Linked DNA regions of Homo sapiens: region 2 is linked to region 1. Evidence: fine-mapped expression QTL. Tissue or cell type: whole blood. Region 1 holds a variant in brackets; the other region holds the start of a gene. All regions are shown on one strand. Distances are between the middles of the regions.

The links. PIP is the estimated chance that this variant, and not a neighbour inherited with it, causes the effect.
Region 2: it holds the start of ITGA6, and the variant in region 1 is fine-mapped to the expression of ITGA6 in whole blood (TOPMed, PIP above 0.99). The same link has a PIP of 0.9 or more in macrophages, monocytes, monocytes after LPS, monocytes after Pam3CSK4, monocytes after R848 and monocytes after interferon gamma.

What each region holds. Positions count from the first base shown.
Region 1 is chr2:172,275,975-172,284,081 of GRCh38, reverse strand. LOC107985960 (a long non-coding RNA gene) reads right to left here. Exons shown (of 6, transcript XR_001739773.3): 2 at 3,202-3,345. Among named protein-coding and RNA genes, the nearest start is that of ITGA6, 150 kb to the left of the region's middle. The variant A/G (reference allele first, on the strand shown) is at 3,025.
Region 2 is chr2:172,423,950-172,432,056 of GRCh38, reverse strand. It overlaps ITGA6 (integrin subunit alpha 6), which reads right to left and starts at 4,471. Exons shown (of 26, transcript NM_000210.4): 1 at 4,087-4,471. The coding sequence starts at 4,268. RefSeq lists enhancers at 535-1,734, 3,159-3,659 and a silencer at 4,444-4,523.

The DNA of each region.
Region 1 (8,107 bases):
CCTGCTGCACAATATGGCTATGGTTTTGTAAATGATACAGCACTATTATCCATAATAGTAGTAACCTTAAGGAGATGCTGAAGACTCTTTTCAGATTTGTCCCAGTGCTTACATCTACTACATTTAAGGGGAGTAGGTTTGAAGATAAATTTCATTATCCTTGTCATCACTGATACCTTCATGAGTCAAGCACCAGAAGTAGACTCGGCACCAGATGAAACATGGTCATCAAAATTATCCCTGAAAGGCCAGTTGGTCAAGATATTTCAGACATCAAAAATATGCCCCCCGGCCCCACCCCCGAGGCCTCAGCTGCATCACATTCCTTCACTTGGACCCGCCTGCAGACCACACAGTATCTCAGGGCAATTTCACACTCTCTCTACCGACTGCCTCTTGCTATCTGGATTGCACACTCAGGCAGCCTGATTCCTGTCTGGTCAACCACATAGAAACCAAGGGAATGAGAGCTAATGTAATTGGTTGAAGTCATTTCCAGAAATATGCTATTGGGGACATATCGAGAAGGTATCTGGGTTCTAAACAGGAAATCATAATAATCAGACTAATGCAGCATCCAAATTACTTCAGGGAAAACAATTGTTACAAAATCAAACTACAGACATACCAAGCTCCTCATCAGAAATAGAAAGAAGCTTCCTTTTTCATTACACCTCTTTTTTCCAGCAAATTTCTTGCTCATTCTAGAATGAATCTTGACTATTCACAATCCCTATCATTGTTCCTGAAATAACACCCTCATTAATTATGCCTACTCTGAAATACAGTTTAACCTGTTTTATAGTTAACAGCAGCCTTAACATACAGTCCCAAGTGAACCGTGTAGAGAGCCTCAGAATTACAAACGTAAAGTGACGGCAAAGGAAGAAAATATATATGCCTTCTAACTGACTCAGAAATGGGCTTCCCACACCCCCTGCAGTCATGTGCCACACAGTGACATCAGGCAACAACAGACTGCATGTATGATGGTGATGCCATAGGATTAGAATAGAGCTGGAAAATTCCTATCCCCTGATGACATATTGATGATCCTGACCCCGATGATTAAGCCCGGGCTAATGTGTGTGTAGTTGTCTTAGTTTTTAACAAAAAAGTTTAAAAGTAAAAATAATAATAATAAAATTTAATGAAAAAAATGTATAGAATAAGGATATAAAGAAAATATTTTTGCATAGCTGTATAATGCCTTTGTGTTTAAAGCTAAGTGTTATTCCAAAAGAAGTTAAAAACATTAAAAAGCTTATAAAGTGAAAAAGTTACAGTAAGCTAAGGTTAATTTATTATTGAAGAAAGAAGAGTTTTAAAATAAATTTAAGCCAGGCACAGTGGCTCACGCCTCTAATCCCAGCACTTTGGGAGGCCAAGGCAGGCGGATCACTTGAGGTCAAGAGTTTGAGACCAGCCTGGCCAACATGGTGAAAGCTCATTTCTACTAAAAATACAAAAATTAGCCAGGCATGGTGGTGGGCAACTGTAAGCCCAGCTACTAGGGAGGCTGAGGCAGGAGAATCACTTGAACCCAGGAGGCAGAGGTTGCAGTGAGCGAAGATCATGCCACTGCACTCCAGCCTGAATGACAGAGTGAGACTGTCTCAAAAAAAGTAAAATGAATTTAGTGTAGCCTGAGTGTGCTGTGTTTATAAAGTCTACAGTAATGTACAGTAATGTCCCAGGCCCTCACAATCACTCACCACTTACTCACTGACTCACCCAGAGCAACTTCCAGTCCTGTAAGCTCCACTTATGGTAAGTGTCCTTACAAGTATATCATTTTTTATCTTTTATACCATAACCTTCTCTATGTTTAGATACACAAATACTGATCATTGTGTTACAACTGCCTATGGTATATTCAGTACAGTAACATGCTGTACAGTTTTATAGCCTAGGAGCAATAGGCTATACCACACAGCCCAGGTGTATAGTAGGCAGTACCATCTAGAGCTATGCAAGTACACTCTATGATGTTTGCACAAAGAAATCGCCTGACAATGCACTTCATAGAACATATCTACATTGTTAAGTGACACACAGTTGCATTTCAGCACTCCATGCCCTACTTCTTTATATATATATTAATAGCTTCGAGGGAATGGGTAGTCATTTAGCATTAATAAGCAATGAAAAGTGGAATCTTTTTCTTGTTTCAGAAAGTGACAGTAAGCAGTCTAGAAAATGTGGACAAGATGGAGGAAAGGAAAGAGTGAAGGGAAGAAGGGAGAGTAGAAAGGAAAACCAAGATAACTTTCCTCATGTCCTGAATCTGATGAGCTCAGACTGTCTGGCACATGCCCTTCAGGTAGGTGATAGGGCAGTGTTGGGCTGATTCTGGGAAAACTCTCCTCTACAGAACTCAGGTGTCTTTAATACAGTGTAGTCCATTTTGTTCTTTTTTCTTCTGTTTCTTAGCGATGGGTTTGCCTTTTTAGGGGTTGGCTGGAAACGAGTACATTATCATCGACCACTGACAAAGCAACAGGAGGACATCTTCTGTCCCTGGGCACACGCTGGTTACCCATCAATCACTTTTTATTGACCTTGAACTAAGATCCATAAATTCAAAAACTGCAATTTAAAAATTTTATAGGCAAACTAATGGAATATCAACTTCTACAAGGCTGATTCTTCAATAACACACTTGAAGGACATAGTCCCCTGCCAGGGATGGAGCTCTGTTTGCTGATTTTTCACTAAGGGAAGGGAGGAAGGAACACTTAGTGAGCCTCCAGTGTGTGCCAGGCACCATATGGGGTGCTTTACATATATGATACCAAATCTAAGTTGCCACCAACTGTAACACGCCCAGCAGGAAAGCAAACCTACTGCCGATTAATTGAAAGATGCCATCCAGGGTGTATTTACTGGGAAGCTAAGAGAGTTTCAGCCTCAGGGCCCTTCATTTGCATGGGCCCTTCCAATGTTCTTGGAGAGGGGCCAGCAGTGTGTTCACGTGGCCATATATTTTTGTAAAATTTGCAAAAGATATTTTAACTGCAATCA[A/G]TTAGACCACTGTCTCTTTCCACTCTGACTTCCCCTCTGTCACACTTCCCCTTATGTGGGTGGCACTGGAGTGGCTATGGGCAACTTGGGGATCCTATTAAAGGGGAAGTTGAGCTGGGGATACATTTAGTCTGGGTTCAGTGGGACGTTTGTATGTGGTCTGTGCAGTTAACTTACTGCTGGGCATGCTGGGATAGAAATGGCTTCACCGCTTCTCCCCTCCACCACACTAGCTCTCCTGGCAGTAAGAAGCTCCAGTGCAGGGCTCCAGGCTGTATCCAATATAAATACATCCCACCACACTCGCCAGCAGCATATGGCCTGGGCAGCAGAAAATAAACAAGGTGTGAAGTGTGTGAGCCAGAATTTGGTCTGTGGAAAATTTTCCCAAATCTCATAGTTCATATAGGAAAGAAACTTCATAGAGGTTTTCCCCAAATTTGACAAAAAAAACTCTCAAGATTTATATGACATTACCAAAAACAGTTGTGAAGCTGGAAAACACACATTTTACTGTTGATAGTAAAAAATAAATTTTCGTCAACCATTGAGAAGGAAGACTGAACTGTCTATTCTCTCTATAGAAAACAGACATAACGAATTCATTGTCATACAGCCCACTCCCCTCCAAAAATGCAGGGCAAAGAAGTATAACAGAAGTGGGCCAGGCAGTTAATTTTTACAAATATTATGGTATTTTATGTTGTTTGTGATTTATATCACCTTTTTAAAATTTGTGGTTTGTTGTGATTTTCCCATTTAAACAAATATTCATGTTCTTACCTAATTTTGCACGTATTATTTTCTCTTTTTTATAAAGGTCCCTGAATAATATAGAGTTCAGGCCCCATAAAACTGGGGTTGTCTAGACCCCTGGATGCCATCCCAATATCAGAGACCTTTCTAATGTATGGGTGGAAATAAGAACCTTAGACCTGATTAAATACATAGCAGGTATTATTTCCTTAATTCCACATAACAACACTGGGAGGCAGGTGTGTCATTTTACAGATGAGGAAACTGGGCTCAGGAAGTTGGAAATTTTCCCAAAATTACTGCCATGGCTACATTGGCAATATTCAAAACTTAAAGCCACAAAGTGAGGCCTGAACTTTTTGAGGAGCCCTAAAGTTCCTCTATCTCCACTGAATTAGTAGAATGCAGAATCAGGATTAGAACCAGACTTTTTATCTGAAACCTTGAAGCCTTACCACAACACCTCTTTGGAAAAGAACTTCCACTACCTCCTTACAGAAATTTATATTTCCTGTTAATCCTCCAAAAAGGTATTTCATTTTCATCCTTATGTGTAATTTTGCAATTAAATGACTATCTTCTGTTCAGGAGTTTTAGGGATTTTAGAAAGGACCCATCCCCAAACTCTGCTCCCAATTGCTGTCCCCCGTGCCCAGACCAATCAGAGAGGACTTTGCCATTAGACACCCTTTGAGTTAAAACATAAAAGCTCCTTCCTCTCAAAATGTATATGTATACTTAGAAGTAGAAACTCAATGAGGAAGCTATTCTTCATCATTAAGAACTTAACAAGAATGTATATTTCAAAAGCACTAACACCGCAGGATTCCTGGGGGGAAGGCGTTGTAGTGGTGCTGGCAGGGTCTGTTTTGTTATGGAGGTGGGGCAGACACAGACGGTCCCAGGCAACCAGAAGGCAGCAGTGCTGTAGCCATTTCCACCTCCATTCTACCTAGCACACTATAGTTATTAAAAACTAATCAGGCCAGTGCAGTGGCTCAGGCCTATAATCCCAGCACTTTGGGAGGCCGAGGTGGGTAGATCGCTTGAGCTTAGGCATTTGAGACCAGCCTGGACAATGTGGCAAATCTTGTCTCTGCAAAAAATACAAAAATTAGCTGGGCTTGGTGGCGCATGCCTGCAGTCCCAGCTAGTCGGGAGGCTGAGGTGGGAGGATCGCTTGAGCCCAGGGGGCCAAAGCTGCAGTGAGCCAAGACTGTACACTGTACTCCAGCATGGATGACAGAACCAGACCCTGTTTCAAAAAAAAAAAAAAAAAAAAAAAAACGCTAATCGGTTAGTTCCTGGTACAAAACTTCTCCTGGCCATTAAGCTGGCACCACTGAATCCAGTATTTCAGGGGACTACATACAAGCAGTCCCAGTGGGGACTTTCCATCCTTGCAGATGTCATCACCGACACCAGCCTGAGCTCCCTGTCTCCCTTTGCCATGATTTATGGGGAGAAAGCTGAGGTTTAAGGCAGAAGTTTAATTGGCGGTCCACGAAACTGCTTGAAATTTGTTGCAGGAGTAAGATGAGACTGCAATTCTTAAGGGAGACAGTCAAATACTAAAGGGATTTATGAGCTCCCCAAAAGTTTAAGAACCACCGTTGTAGAAGAAAAGCACTGAAATAAAATTAGTACAAGTCTCAGAGGGAGGCTGATACCAAAAACATAGTCAAGTGATGTCAGGTGGTGCGTGTGTAGGTATGTGGATAAGAAAAAGTTTGTTACGTTTAAGTGGTGTGCAATGTTTTTAACTTGCTAGATAATCAGTTAAGAAATTCTGGTTTTTATTAAATCATTAAAATAATTAGTTAATATTTTCTCTCTTGACATGCCTATATTATATACATAATACTAGAGGATTCATCAGACTTCCATTTTTAACTTACTAGATCGTTTTATTTTTAATAATACAACTGAATGAGAATCCTATTTTTGGCTCCAAGTCAGACTATAAACAGAAAATATTGAGCTGCAGAGAAATCACCTTACCACAGTTTCATTTTGACCTTCTATTCCACAGCCATTTGTTTAATACATTTTGCTTTGTGTTTAGAAGTGCATTATTTATTATCTGAATTAAGCTGTAATTTGTTTCCATTAATACAAAAAAACGCTCTGCCAACTCAACCAGCTTCTTGTATCAATGAAAATCATGATCTCATTAGGAGTTGCTTTAAGAAAAAATGCAGCTTTTTCTTTTTTTTTTTTTTTTTTTTTTCCTGAGACAGAATTTTGCTCTTGTTGCCCAGGCTGGAGTGCAATGGCGCAGTCTCAGCTCACCGCAACCTCCACCTCCCAGGTTCAAGCAATTCTCTTGCCTCAGCCTCCCAAGTAGCTGGGATTACAGGCATACACCACCACGCCCTACTAATTTTGTATTTTTAGTAGAGACAAGGTTTCTCCATGTTGGTCAGGCTGGTCTCAAACTCTTGACCTCAGGGGATCCGCCCACCTCGGCCTCCCAAAGTGCTGGGATTACAGGCATGAGCCACTGTGCCCGGTCAGCTTTTTCTTAAGAAAGCAGCTTCTCTGCCCGACCTTCATCTTGCTTCCTTAACCCATCTCCCTCTGGATATGCCAAAATGCTTCCATCTCATACTTCTGTCCTGTTGGGTCCTTCCAATCCTTGACCCACCACCCCACAAACCTAATTTGGGCACCTGAGTCAGGGCTTTCCAGTTTGTGTCTTTGAGAGAAAGGATCTGCCCTTAGCTTGAGAGAAACTGTAACCTGGAACAACACGCCCTTTAATAGGGATGTTTGTTCAGCGTTGGTTGCACATTCATCCAAACCCACTGCACAGCTCCCTTGAGCACCACCTCTTGAGAGGGTTTGTTAGACTTATTGCAAATAAATGGACAAAGTTTTCAAGAGGTAGCATTTCTTAATTTCCCAAATGGTTGGGTTTGGGGTTTGGTTATTTGAGGCTTGTTTATTCTTTTTTATTTCTACAAAGATGATTGCCCCTCTCTGCCCCTCTCCAGCCTTCCTGACCACAGCAGACCATGTGATGATGTGAAAGCAGTTAAGCCCAAAATGCTTGACATCATTCCCATATTTGGGGACTTTCCCACCCTAGAGGTTCTTACCTCCCCACAGCTGAAACCAGAAAACTGACTTTCCCTGATTCCCTTGCAGCTAGACCTCACCATGTGACCCAGGCTCTGCCAATCAGATAGTCTAACAAACAGCTTCATTTGGAATTGAGGCCATGAGCAAGCCAACTGTGCAGAATCCATTTGCTAGAAAGGGTGGCAGTAGTGTGTCCAGATCCTAGGGGCAACAATGGCATGAGCTGTGCTGAGGGGGTCTAGACTTGGAGGCAGCTGCAGAGACCCTTTCTGACTCACTCCCAGGGTGTGGTTGGTTTGAGCCTTGTTCTGACCTGCTGGCCTACAAGCCTGACTTTCTGGCCCTCTAGAAATTTTGAAAGTATCTTCATATCCTCTAATAAACTCCTTTTTCTGCTGAAACGACTGCAAATGGGTTTTGGTTTTGGTAACAGATCCTTGATGGATACAATGCCCACGAAGACCTGCATGGTCTCCAGCCAGCCTGCTTCTCCTATTGGACCTGTTAGTGTTCTTCCCCTCTTACTGGGCCCTCGTCTTCTCCCCCAAGGAGTTAAGTTCTCTCCTGCCTCAGCCTTCGCAGGTGCTGTTTCTCAGCTGGGAATGTTCTGCCCCTGCTCCAACCCTGGCTCCCTCCTGAACTCCAAACACAGCTCAAAACTGACTGGGTTAAGTCTTCCCAATACACCCTCCTGGCATCCTAGACTAGCCCTGCTTGGTACTCATCACAGTTGAAATTAAATACTTAGTTGGTTAGTGATTTTCTCTCTGAAGAGACTGTAATAATCAAAATAATAACATTTATTGCACTCTTTCCAAATGCCAGGAAGACTTCTAAGCACTTTACATGGATCACCTCATTCCATCTTCACTAAAACCCTAACGAAAGTATTATTATAAAACCTATTTTACACATGGAGAAACTTAGACCGAGCACTTAAGAAACAAATCCTAGGCCACACAAAAAGTATGGGCTGGAGCCAACATCAGAACCCAGAAAATCTCACACTAGATCACACTCTTAATACCATCTGTCATCTCTACAGTGGGTGCCTGCATCCCAGAACTTGTGTAAAATAAGTTATTGGAAGGTGAGAAGAAAATATTAGAAACTTATATAGATATATACATTTGTAACTCCTCTGGATTAATTTATTTTGCCTGTTCATTTTGTAATGTACACAAATCATTTTACTTGATGTGCATAACATAGCAATATATTACATAATTTATAAATAAAAAAC
Region 2 (8,107 bases), 150 kb before region 1:
CGAGGTCTTCAGGAAACCATGCGCCATAATTCTGGTACTATTTGGTTATGAAAGCTTAAATTAAATCTCAATATATTGTTATGCTAAGAGAGTCTATATAACTGAGAACACAGAATAACCACTTCTTTATAATAAAGGAATCCTTTTATATAAGCATTTATCCTGACTTCCCCAACAAATTATTTATACCATATAAATACTTTGACCCTTTTTTTCCCCAACCCTGTCATTACTTGGTCTCACACCAGCCTGTGTTAAAATTAAACTTGCCTATTTCTGCTTTCTTGCAGAGTCCTAAGACTTCCTGTAAGTCTCGCTGCCCGTTTTGGCTTTTTCTCTACTCTTAGCATTCAAGGTGACCCAGCAATCCCTGGAAGATGGCCCTGGGCCACATGGCACTCCGAGTGAATAAATGCAAGGAAGCAAGTGCTTAGGTACACATCCTGAATACAGCTCTGATTCTTGGCTAGCTACAGCCACACTTCACTGGGCTTTTTCAGAAGGGAATGGGGTGGAGGCAGGCAAAGAAGGACGGACCCAGAACTTGTTCCAAGGCCAGCTGGAATAGAGTCAATAGTAAGAGTCCAGGCACCAATATTTAAATAGATAGCCCTGACCTATGCATATGGGAAGCAGTTTGATAAATCAACACAATATAGTACACTTCCAAAATTCAGATGCTTGCCGATTTCTCTAGGTCTGAAGAACATTTCTGGCTTTTCCATTTAAAAATGGCATGAGCATGGGTCAGAGATTCAAATCCACATTCTGTTAAGATTCTGCTCAAGCTGAACTTTCAGCTTCAGTTTCTTCATCTGTAAAAAGAGGCAGTTGGACTAGATGATCTCTAGTTCAGAAAATATGATTTTAAGAGATGGAACATGACAAGTCTGAGAAAAGTCAAGAACAAACCTAGTAAGGGTCAGAACAGAACAGACCGCGGGCCTGGAGCATTTCTGGAAGACAGTGGTGGTCAGAGAGAGAGACCCCATAAAGAAGAAAATGAGGGTTGGCAGAAATCCAAAATGACTTCATGAGACTATCTCTTATAGATCTCCTTCTTCTAGGTTCTTCCCTGTGATCATATATAGATCCATCTCTTCCCAGAAGAGCTAAGAGTGATGATTCATAGGCTGGATATACCCACAGTCATCATCACATACCTTCCACCTCTGGGAATGACTCAATCTTAACTACCTAAGAGAAATTAAAGAGTCCAAGGTGCTCAGACCCTGACCTCAGTCACTCGGCGGACCAACTTGGCTGACCATTGAGTAATCTTTTGGAGTCCGAAACTTCTTTAATATACAGCCTGAAAACCTGGATGAAGTTTATGGTATCTACTTCAATTTTATAGTCTCCAAAGCTTTAGGAACACCCGACATGTTTTGGGGCTCTCTGACACAATATTATTCTGCAAAAGTCATAACTGGAGTTTAAAATGTGACTGAATAGTTAAAGGCACTATAGAAAATTTGAACTACAAACATTTATGATAGGTCTTCTATGATCGTGCTTTTATCTGACCGTCCCATGCATCTGATATTTTACTTCTCCTTCCTCAAAGTCCTCTGTTCATTAAACTCACTTTTGTTATAAGTCTAATTAAGACCTATTAAAGTTAAGTTGCTTTGAACATGGGTTTCATAAATATGACTGAGTTTAAAATATCATTACCCAAAAACAACCACCTTTGGCTTTACTCTCAGGCAATCTTAGAATCACAGAATGTTTAAGACACCTTGTAAGGTACCTGACACACAGTAGGTACACAATTACTGCTTTTTAAATGATCATTAACAGCTACCATTTAGTCAGCAAGTACCCATGCCAGACAGGCATTAAGCACTTTGCATATTATCTCTTAATCCTCATAATAACCCCAGTAAGCAGTAATATCTCCATTTTACAGATAAAGAAATTAAAGCTCAAAGTAAATTAACAGCTGCTAATAAAAGGCCGAGAAGGAATCTCAGCTTAGGTCTCTCTCCCACCAGGTCCCTGAAAGACCCCCACTGAGTTTTTCCATAGAGTTTAGGAAGCTGGTCCAGAAGTTTTCTCAGTCTTACTGGCTCTGCCATTTACACCCACATTCTTTACTGTCAAAGGTTGACAACTGACCTGTGCTATGGCCTGTGTGTGCTGGTTCTCCTGGGAAGACCAATGCTATTCCTGAAGCTGGAATAAAGCTTTACAAAAGCATGGAGGTGGGCAGCACGTGACATAAACCACAGCCTCTTTAAAGTGTGGTCACTGCCTTTGGACTCTAGGAAACATACAGTCTCCTTATACGGGGCCTCTCCCCTCTGTCAGCTGCTAAGAAGAGCTTTCCTAGAAGGCATCAGACCCCATTGCAGGCTTATCCTTACCTCGGGAGGAGTTGCCTCAGCTCTAATACCAGAGAAGCCCAGCAGCAGTAACAAGTTTTAGCAAGCATGCTGCTAACCTTCACGACACAGATTCCTGGCAAAGTCACGTTTCGCAAATCTCCACTGCCAGGATATTTCTTGTCCCAGTACTTTCCCTTCACACTTTTTGCTTGAACAAGTATTTCAAGGAAGCCACCGGTTTCAGTGGGGCTCTGGTGCAGAGAGAGAATGCCCAGGAGAATGAATTCCCTCTGCTGGCCCACAATCATTTCTGCACTAACAAGCTCAAATTCTACACACCAAGTATTCCGAGACAATAAACGTCATCTATTAACTGAGTTAACAGGAACCTTTCATTTCAGATTTACAGCTTAACAACAATTATTTCTGAGAGAAAGCAGAGTATAAGCAGCTGGCCAGGCATATAGCCTCAGACCACCCTCCTAGAGCCTCCCCACCCCCAGCTAATTTCTGTGCTTCACCTAGCAGGTGTTATCAGAAAAAAAAAAAAACTGACTAAAATTCAGGGGCTGCAACATTCACGAATTCCAAAGTTGTTAACCGCTGAAATCAAGAGGTTTCCTCCAGTTCTAAAATCCCATTCGCCTCTCCTAAACACAAAATCTCTTCACTGTGGCTGCACTTTGCTTTCTCCGGTCTGTTGGTCCTGGAAGGTCCTTAGTTCAACTCAAGGCCTGGGTGGGGAGGGGAGACCTTTTGTTGCTACAGCCTATTTTTCAGTAGCACAGATGAAGAATGCAACCCCATAGCGATTAAGGCGACTAAGCGCCAAAATACCCTCTCCGGCTTAAATAGCCGATCATGTGGGAACCAAACACTGTTTAAGAAATAAAAGGAGAGGCCAGTAGTGCCGGTCTCCTCTTTCTCCTGGGAGGTTTACCGCTACGGTGGGGGGTTGTCCCTTACAAACCTTGTTTGCAAAGTCCAGGCTCAGATCGGACATTTTGCTTTAACCCCTTGGCTGTGCCCGCCCAACGCAGGAGCCGAGCGGGTCTCGGGTGCGGCCGAGTACTTTGGGGGCTGGGCACATCACTCAGACTTGTTTTCTCAGCTGATCTAGTCCAGCGAACAGGTGTTTGGTTAATTCCCGCCCCCACCCCCATCTTTTTTTTTTTTTTTTTCAAAGGCATGTAAAAGTATCTCCTAAGGAGCGCCCCCGCCTTGCTGAGAAAGTCATGCAGGACACATGGAAAGTGGCTTTCCAACTTGTGCGGGGCGCGCCAGTCTGCGGGGGAGACGGGGTGCACCGTGAGTTTGGGAAAGGCCTAGACCATCCTGGAACTACGCTCCCTGCAAACCCACAGCAGCGCTGCGGTGACCCTGAACGCCACCCCAGCCCCAAACACACACGTGAAGCTCAGCAAAGCGTGCCACCTGCCGGGGTCCCAGCAAACACGCCCGGAGGGAAGAACCGGCGGAAAGCACTTTGTTTAAAACAGAAAAAAAAGTAAACTCTCCCGGGGCCCAGCCTAGCCCTCGGGTTCTCCTCCTTCCCGAGCTGAATGGAGGGAGGCGCCGCGCGGGGCGGGTCAGGGCGGGGAGCCGAGCGCGCTGGGCGCTGGGTGCGCCTCGGCCGGCCCGGGCGCGACCCACGGGCCAACTACTCCCCGGGGCCGGCGGGAACAGGGCGCGCCCTCGCCTCAACTCGCGCGCAGGCCGGCGCCCCAGTGGGGGTGGGAAGGGTCTGGGAACTCACAGCCGCTTGTCCTCGGGCTGCAGTTGCCAGTGCATGGCCAGCGAGAAGCCGAAGAGGCTCCCGGGGTCTCCATATTTCCGGATCACGTTGTCCTCCCGAGTGTCCAAGTTGAAGGCTGCGCCGAGCCGGGACAGGAGCCCCGCCGACAGGTAGAGCAAGCACAGCTGCCCGGCGGCGGCCATGGGCGGACGCACGGGGAGGGGAGCGGGGACCTGCAGCGGCCGCCCTGCGCTCCGGGCTGGGTCCGAGGCTGCCGCGCTGCTGCTACCGCAGCCACCTTCGCCTCCTCTCGCCGCTGCGCCCGGCCCCACCCCCGGGACGGGTCGCGCTCTCCGTCCGGCCGCTCCCCCTCGCGGGCAGCTCGCGACCGCTGAATGAGCCCGTTGTTCTCTGGAGACTCGCAGGCGTTTTATCAAGTGACGAGGACGCCGGCCCCGCCCCTCCCCACCCTCTCGCCCCTCCTTGCGCGCCCGCGGCCCGGCGCACCGCCCGCACCTTACCCGCCGGCTCTGGCGTCTCCAGCTGCCCGGTACCTGCCCGGAAGCCACGACGTGGGAGCCCCGGAGGCGAGCTCGCGGCGAAGCAGCCCCACTGCGCCGCCCTCTGTGGACAGAATTGTGGTTGCCGAGTAGCACAGAGCGAGGGAGACTTTACTACCCGTTATAAAGAGAAGTGCAGGTGATGCACCGGGCCTCATGGCCTGAGCAGCCTGTTCTTGCAGATGTGGGCCCACGTGCAGATGCATACGTCATTCATTCATTTCTACAGGTGTTTATGGAGCGCTTAAGGCGTGCCCAACACTTGGGGACTACAGCTGTGTAGACTGTTCTGGGTCCTCAAACACCTAACAACCCTCAAAAATGATCACAGCGCACACCTTGATAGTGCTGTATAATGTACACAACCCAGCCATTACCTCAATTCATCCTAACAGTCCTATGAGGTAGGTGTTTCTTTTTGCAGATCAGAAAACCGAAGTTCCGCCTTGTCCCCAGATCACCTAGGATTTTGCCCAGGTGACCAGGAGAGCTTGTGGAAGAAGTCACGCAAGTCAAGGATGGGTTGTTTAAAGTGGCGCCAGGAGCTCAGGCGACGATGCCGTTCTTTCCTAGCCCCGGACTTTCAGAACTAGTTGTGGGGAGAACTGCTGGGCCAAGAGACAGCTCCGAGTTCTGTGTAGGTGGCATGAAGGCTCCTGCCTCCAGGACATGAGGCGGGGCTCCAGTGAGGTGTTGGCCCTAGGGGCAACCTTATCCTGCAGGGGTTCTTAACCCGAGGAGAGGTAATTAATTCAAGAGTACTGTGAACTTGGATGAGAAAAAATTTACGTCTTAATTTTCACCAACCTCTGACATTTAGCACGTTTTGCCATTATGAACGTAGACAACAAACTACAGTAGCAGTAGGATAAGTATTTATGACTTAGTAATCACTAGAAACCATAGGTTTTTACATCACATCACAGTTGTTGCAAGTATCTCAAATAACAGTAGTTATTAGACAATCAGCCAGATATTATATGTCAATAATGAAGCATATATATTGCTCTAGCACAAATTTTTAAAAACATTTTGTTAGCTACATTTCAATATTATTGGCTTTTTTTGTAACCTCTTGTGGTTTCTTTTATGTATTTAAAACCCTTATTCTGAGAAGAACCCCATGGTTTTCAGCAGCCTGCCAAAGGGGTCCCATGGCATGAAAAGGTTGGGACGTGCTGGCCTGAAGCCTTCTGGAATGCCTTGGGGAGCCCTCTTTGGAATCTGACATCCCTGCATTGGAAATACAAGCAGGGTGCAGCCCCAGGAAAGAGCAGGAGCTGTGTGTGCATAGGGGTAGGGGTGGCCTCTTCTTCACCTCAAGGAGTATTCAAGAGAACAGCATGTGCCACTCAGAAAAGCTGCGTGAACATCATCAAGGGTCCCCACAGGTGGTAGCAGCTGTCAGAGTAAGTCCGTCAGTATATTAGGGGTGTGTACCACTTCCTTTCCAATCAGTAACTCCAGTCAATTATAGTCCAAAGTGGGGTGCAGTGGTTTAAATTCAGTAGATGATTTTGGAGAGCACACAGTTTTAACAAATATATCTTGATAAGGTTGAGAAACTATTGGAGACAATCTAGTAAACTAAGAAGTACTTGCAACGTGATTTTTCATGCAAATAAGTTGCAAGTTAGCCTTTTCCCTTCGTGTAAAATATGTACTATTCCAGAGAGATGGGGTCCAGACTATTATAGGCATAGTATAATGAACCTCACTGCAGAGTGTACTCAGCCAGGAGCTGGTGATTTGGCTGTAATGGTTACTGAAATATTCTGAATTGGTTGATAAAAGCTGCTGCCCTTAGTTCCTCACAGGCAACCATCCCTGCCCTGCCCATTTTCCTAGGACTAAGCAACTTCCTCACAACCTGGCAAATGAAAGTTTAAGCCCTTAAGCCCTGATGCAGCAAGGGCTCCCTCTGCTTGGATATCCCCATGTCACACCAGCTGTTAACTATTCTGAATATCACCCCTTGCTTCTAAGAGTAATTCTGTGGACCATTGATTCCTGTCTTCCCAAGATGTGTTTAGTGGATGATGTATGAATGGCCAGAGTTATTTACTTTATCCCAAACACAGATTGTGCTCAAATTGAAATTCTAAATAATATTAAATTTAAATATCACAACTACATGTATAGCACTACTGAAGCAAATTATGCTTGTGTGGGAAGAGGTTCAGATAAAGAAAAACAAGGCTGGGAGTCTTGTTCTGGAATATGTCAAGTGCCCATCGCAAATGGAAAACTTATTAGCTCAGTGCTCCTACCTGCCACCTGTCTCCTACCTACTTGAAGTTGAGTCAAACTCTCACTCTCAACATAGATGCCGAAGATACTTGAAGTTGAGTCAAACCCTCACTCTTGACATAATTTATTTGAAGATTGTCAGCTCCTTCTGACTATAACCATCAAGTTTTGGCCAGGCACAGTGGCTCACGCCTATAATCCTGGCACTTTGGGAGGCGAGGTGGGAGGATCACCTGAGGTCAAGGGTTCGAGACCAGCCTGGCCAAAATGGTGAGACTCCCCCCCACCCAACCCCACCACCCCGTCTCTACTAAAAATACAAAAATTAGCTGGGTCTAATGATGGGCACCTCTAATCCCAGCTACTCGGGAGGCCAAGGCTCAAGACTCACTTGAAATGGGGAGACAGAGGTTGCAGTAAGCCAAGATTGCACCACTGCACTCCAGACTAGGTGACAGAGCAAGACTCTGACTCAAAAAAAAAAAAGAATCAAGTTTTGTGACTCAGTTGTTATTTCCATTGTAAAACAGAGTTGGGTGTTTTACAAAAGTGTCTTACAAAAAGGAGGTTTAGAGGTCATTCTGGATCCACTGAGGACACATCAATCTCTGGGGCCAAAGGAATAAAAGAATTCAGAGCCCTAAAAATTAAAGACCTGGGGAGGGAGTACACAGTTTTAATGGGGAAAACAAAATCTGGGACAGGAAGATACTTGTCTGGAACCAAAGGGAGAGAGATAGCTTGGTGATAAAGGTGTGCTGAGTATATAGGGCATGGGGCATGTGTGTGTGTGTGCTAGCACACATGCCTATGAAAACAAGACATGCACAGTGCAAGAAGGGCCCTACAAATCCAGTTAACTGGCAGAACCGTGTCTAAAAAAAAAAAAAAAGGGCCGATTAGAAAACGAAATAACACATCACAGAAGAAACTTCTATAAACTGAACATTTTTAATTAAAAGGCAGTGAAAGCTATGCATAGAGGCATTTGCTCAGGTGAGAGCTTTTGAATTCTTATGTTTTACCAGTACACTTTTCAAAATAAAATTATTTATTTGTACTATATCCCACCCTCTGTAGAAGAGCTTTCAAGATAATTTTAGAATATTGGTCATTTATGGAGAAGTCTGAAGAATCCATGTCATACCTAATATATTTTCCATTCCCTGAGACCTACTTTAATCATTTTGTTATCATGTTCACTGTTATATTGACTTCATCATCACTAACAG